Regions from separate parts of the Homo sapiens genome. Here region 2 is linked to region 1. The links come from fine-mapping of genetic effects on gene expression. Tissue or cell type: whole blood. Region 1 holds a variant in brackets; the other region holds the start of a gene. All regions are shown on one strand. Distances are between the middles of the regions.

Region 1 (2,759 bases):
AGTTTTCTTGGTCAGTGCAGAACTAGACTATTTTGCGATATCAGTGCTAAATATAATTTCCTGATGATAACATTTTCATATTATAAGTTGTAAATACCATGAAAATCCATCCCTAAGTAATAGATTATCAGTCAGTTGACTCTCCACTAAACAGTATTATAACGATCAGCTGAAGAAAGTTTTCAGCTATTGCCCAATGCATAAAATATTTTGGGAGCTCAAATTTTTTAAAAATCTATTTTAATCCCCAAATAGCAGTATAATAGTTAATCATCTCCTGAACAGGTTGGTTCCCAGAAACCAAAATCATTTTCCACTCAGTGTTGTTGTAGATCTCAATTAAAGAACTAACCCAGGATACCTGAACTAAAGAGAGGTGGCACTGAGTTTCCATAGAACTTCAAAACAATTGGTTGATTTCACTTAAAAAAAAAAAAAAAAGTCATTCAATATACAGAAAATTACTCCCCTGGTCAGTACTGTTAGCCCCAGATAATCTGAAAAAATTTGTTCTTAAAAAAAAAAAACAATTTGGAGGCCAGGCATGGTGGCTCATGCCTGTAATCCCAGCACATTGAGAGGTCGAGTTGTGTGCATCACTTGAGCCCAGGAGTTTGAGACCAGCCTGGACAACATGGTGAAACACTATCTCTACAAAAAAATACAAAAATTAGCCAGGCATGGTGGTGCATGCCTGTAGTCCCAGCTACTCAGGAGGCTGAGGCGGGAGGGAGGCAGATGTTGCAGTGAGCTGAGATTGTGCCACTGCACTCCAGCCTGGGTGATGGAGTGAGACCCTGTCTCAAAAAACAAACAAACAAAAAAACTCAGCAAGCATCTCAACCTTTAAGCAACCTTAAAGTCATTAATTGGGAAATAGTGAGATGTTTGGCATGGAATCTTCAGAAGAGGAAAGAGTTGAATGGAAACAGCTCCAGCTGCCTAGTTGTAGTTGACAGACAACTTTATAAGCTCTAGTCAACCCTATTGACTAAGCTTCTGAACCACTAGCATAGTTCTAGGGTCAGGCGGATGCCTACTGTGGGCAGGAAAGTGATGCATGCATGTGTGGGAGCAGTGTCTTAATGTCTGAAATAGTAGCCATGAGCTACATGTGGCTATGGAGCACTTGAAATGTGGGAGTCCAAATTATCATGTGCTGTGAGTGTAAAATAATATGTTTCTAAGACCGTGTGTGAAAGAATATAAAATATCTCATTAAAAAATGTTTATATTGAGTACATGTTGAAATAATTTTATATTTGTGACACATTGTGTTAAATAAAATATTAAAATTTACATTTTTTTTTACTTTGTAATGTGGATACCAAAAATTTTAAATTACTTATGTGGCTTGCATTATATTTCTATTGGACAGCACTGGTCCAAACTATTCTAGCCTTCCCTGCATCTTCAGCCTTATGCACGAGGTAAAATTAGCCATTTTGTCAACAGTTTTTGCATTTGGTTTTCTATCATGTTCTGACCAATTTTTGAACAACTCTTTGGACCAGCTCTGTAGCCGATTTGATTTAAAGCATATAGGATAGCAGGAAATCCCAGGGTGATGGGGCTCTGGCTTAGTTTTCCATATTTAGGCCTCTAATAGGCAGTCAGTAACTCCACATTTCACCTTTTCTTTTCAGTTCTTTAATTGAGAAGACAATTTCTTCATTTTTAGGT[A/G]TTCTGAAATGTGACAGAAAACCAGACAGAACCAAGTAAGTACACTGCAGGCTGTGCACTCTGTGCCAGAACAACAGCAGCCCTGCTGTAGATGCCCATTACTTGGGAAGCCAGATTGTACTCATCTGTTGGTTGCCTTGTACAGTAATAAGAAGTAACATCAGCAGATATACTAACCATAGTGTATTAAGTACCAACTGTGTGCCATGCACTGCACTAGCCACTCTCTGCATATCGTTTCCTGGAACCCTCTCAATGAGCCTTGCAGGAGGAGTATCATACCCCTTGCTTAGAGACAGCGCATATGAGATTCATAGAAGTCAAGTGAGATATCAAAGTCACGTTGCTAGTAAGTGATGGGCTGGGATTTAAATCTAGGTCTTTGGACTCCAAGAGTTATACTGTTAACCACTACAATACACTCCCTCCACCTCCCATCCCAGAAAAAGTTGGATCAGGGATAGGGTTCACTTCAGGAGCCAGGGTCAGAGCTGGGCCTGTAGTCACATATAAAAGATAGGACACAAACACAATTAGCAGCAGTGTTGGTTTAATAAACCGCCGTAGGGTGCTCCAAGAGGCCCCCTCCTGGCAGATCCCACTGGTGGTCAGGAGGCAGAGGCATGAGCTGGGTGTTGAGGGATGAGGGGAAGAGTTAAGGCCCAGGGTGTGAAGGGCAGGACAAGAAGTAGCAAGCCATCCTCTTTGGAGCAGAGAGTGTTGAGGCATTAGAGAAAGATGGGGCTGGGCTGGCAGGTTGGGCCAGGCTGAGACTTTGAGAGAGGCTTTGGGTCATTCTTTAGGGAGAACCGCAGAGTTTTCTAGCAGAACTATGCTTTAGTAAGATCACTCTGCTGGCAAAGCATGGGACTAATTAATAGGAGATGAGATGAGGACACTGGTTAGTGGAGTAATGAAATAATCCAGCCAAGCAGAGAAGAGGGCCTGAGTCAAGGTGATGGTGGCAGAACTGAATATGCAGAGCTAGGTTTGAGAGAAACAGCAGAGGTCCTGTTAGCAAAACTTTCATCTGGCAGTGTAGGCTCTGATGCCAAACTCCCTGGTTCAAATGCCAG
Region 2 (2,617 bases), 52 kb before region 1:
ATCAGTTTCCTCATTTGCAAAAACAACAGCAGCAGTAAGACTAAGTTAATCCAAGCAATGCACTTCACACAGGGCCTGCTCAATAGATGTTTGCTGTCATATCACTTCCCAGCTCAAAAACTTTCTGTGGCTCCCCAGTGTCTGAAGGTCTAACCCCATCCTGCCTTTCTAAGTTGGCCTGAGTTCCTACCAGCCCAGGGCAGAGAACACTTGATTTCCTCATATTTTATGTTACACACTGCCCCTGCCTTGTGTTCCCAGTATCTACAGATGGTAGGGAATATCTCGAGATAGCAGGTTTGTGGTAGAGGGCATTGGTCCCAGAAGTTTCACTGATAGAGATACCTTTTAAGATTTTATGGCTAACTTAAGAAATAATTCATGTCTCTTTGCAATATGGTTCAAGTGTCTTGAGTGACTTCGAGTCCCCACCTGGGGATAATGGAGGTGAAGCAGCAAGAAAGCACATTCCCACTCAGTTTCACAACCTGCACCATGTATGTGTTGGTGGTTATTTGGGCAGCAGGGAGTCCTGTTCATGGAAATGGATTCCTGCTCACATAATAACTAAGAGTTCTGTGAACTCCCTCAGCTGGGCAGGGGCAACTCTGGTGCTTCTGTCTGCAAGAAAGGGGACAGACAGGGAGGCTGATGTGAGGAGCTGGTTCTGGGAATAGGGTCATTTGTTCTGGGATATAGGGATGTGAGGGGAGGGCCAGCTCAATCCAGACTGATGAAGAGCGGGGAGAGTGATGAGTGCCTGCCTCAGCTTGGGCTGGATGGATGTGGGGAGGCTGGGCAGTGAGGGAGATGTGGATCTGACATCTCAGCCTGAGGGAAAGTCCCGGTTGAGATGGGGGAAGACAGAAAAAGAGGAATCTGAGAAGGGAGAAACCAAAGGCTGGAAATCCCAGCTCCGGGGATAAGGGAGTATGGGGACGGGGGAGGCCTGCCTCAGGTAACCCTACGCCTAACAGTTGTCTAAAATGCTCCCTTTCCTTGTCATGTTTGAGGAAAAGTGGTTCAAAGAGGCCGTCTGATGCGGGATCACACAGCGCTGAAGGGATGAGGGGCCCCGGGTGCTCCCGCCCGTCCTGCTGCCTCCTCCGGTGGCTCTCTGGGAGCCACAGCCCCGTCTAGCCACGGAGGGGCCTACAGCACGCCCCAAACGCTAAGGGGAAGCGCGGGAGGTGCGGTAGGAAGGCAGAGAAACCTGGTTTTTAAAACCAAGCCATTTTCAAGGAAAGAATTTCTTACTTTAAAACCTTGGTTTTTAAAACCAAGCCATTTTCAAGGAAAGAATTTCTTACTTAAAAATAGCGTATGGAATGGCGGCGGAATGACGGGAGGGACCGAGCTGGGGGACTGGACGGCGCCCCGGGGACACAGGAAGGAGGCGCGCAGAGCCGAGGCCAGAGGCGCGCCCGGGGAGTGGAAGCGCGAAGACAAACGCGGCGCCGCGGAGGGTGGGGGAGGAAGGGCCGGGGCGGGCCGCCGGCTGCCAGCCCAGGGCGGGGCGGAGCCCTACTTCTGGCCGACCGCGTAGGCGGTGCTTGAACTTAGGGCTGCTTGTGGCTGGGCACTCGCGCAGAGGCCGGCCCGACGAGCCATGGTTGCTGGGAGCGACGCGGGGCGGGCCCTGGGGGTCCTCAGCGTGGTCTGCCTGCTGCACTGCTTTGGTGAGTGAAGCCTGCCCCAGGGGCCCCGCGCCGGCCGGCGGGTACTGGGCAGCACCCAGGCTGGGTGGACGCGCCGGGCTCGAGGCGGTTGCCGATCAGAGACGGGTGGGGACGGGTCGCTGTGGGCCGGGAACAACTCAGCCGTGGGAGCCTTTTCAGGAAGAGAAAGTTGTTATTTCATCGCCAGTGTCCCTCATGGAGTCAGCAAGGAACTGTGTGGCCTTAGGGAAGGACGGGCTCCGGCCCGCTAGCCTCTCCTGCGGGGCCTGCGCCCCCCCGCCGGCCCCCTCCCGAGCTCCAGTGACCAAGTTCCTTCCTGGGCTTCCCCAGTAACGTCGCTGAGCGCTTCAGCGGACTGCAAAATTTTTCCCAGCCGTGAACGCGCCCGGGACGGGGAGCGGGCGCGGATGCCACCTGCTCGAGGGCGACGCCTGCTGCCCTCCCCGCGCGGTGCCGTCCCCGCCCGCGCGGCGTCCGCCGTATCAGCAGAGAGGACTTTTCAGAATCGCCCCACAGCGAGGAGCGGGTAGGCAACTAGGAAGCCCAGTCGGCAGCGGCCTCACGTTGGGATTCCTAAGTGGTGCGACTCCTGCTCCTTTTTCCTCCCCTCAAATCCTAAAAACTAGTATCAGAACTGGTTCCATCCTCTCCGTGTGTTGTCAGCCAAGTCGTCACAACAACCTCAGGAAATAGGTCCCCTTCTTCCCATTTTGCCTCCCCATCCTCCTTCACCCTCCACACATTGGCCCCAGTCAGGCCATAGCAAAACCCCGGGAGTACAGCAGTAACCTCCCAGCGAGTTCAACTGTACTTGAGGGGTTCTCATGGCTGGCTCCTGCACCCCACTGCCAGCCCTCCAGCCCGTCCGTCCGTTTGCTCAGCGTCCGCTGCCTGCCCGGGAGGTGCGCGTGTGCATCTATGGAAGACAGCCAAGGGGG

Evidence for each region. PIP is the estimated chance that this variant, and not a neighbour inherited with it, causes the effect.
Region 2: CD58 starts here. The variant in region 1 is fine-mapped to the expression of CD58 in whole blood (TOPMed, PIP above 0.99).

The regions. Positions count from the first base shown.
Region 1 is chr1:116,518,190-116,520,948 of GRCh38, reverse strand. CD58 (CD58 molecule) reads left to right here. Exons shown (of 6, transcript NM_001779.3): 5 at 1,682-1,718. Among named protein-coding and RNA genes, the nearest start is that of MIR548AC, 41 kb to the left of the region's middle. The variant A/G (reference allele first, on the strand shown) is at 1,684.
Region 2 is chr1:116,569,965-116,572,581 of GRCh38, reverse strand. It overlaps CD58 (CD58 molecule), which reads left to right and starts at 1,556. Exons shown (of 6, transcript NM_001779.3): 1 at 1,556-1,679. The coding sequence starts at 1,610. It overlaps LOC124904385 (a long non-coding RNA gene), which reads right to left and starts at 1,607. Exons shown (of 2, transcript XR_007066497.1): 1 at 1,529-1,607. RefSeq lists silencers at 1,355-1,814, 1,885-1,954 and an enhancer at 2,425-2,484.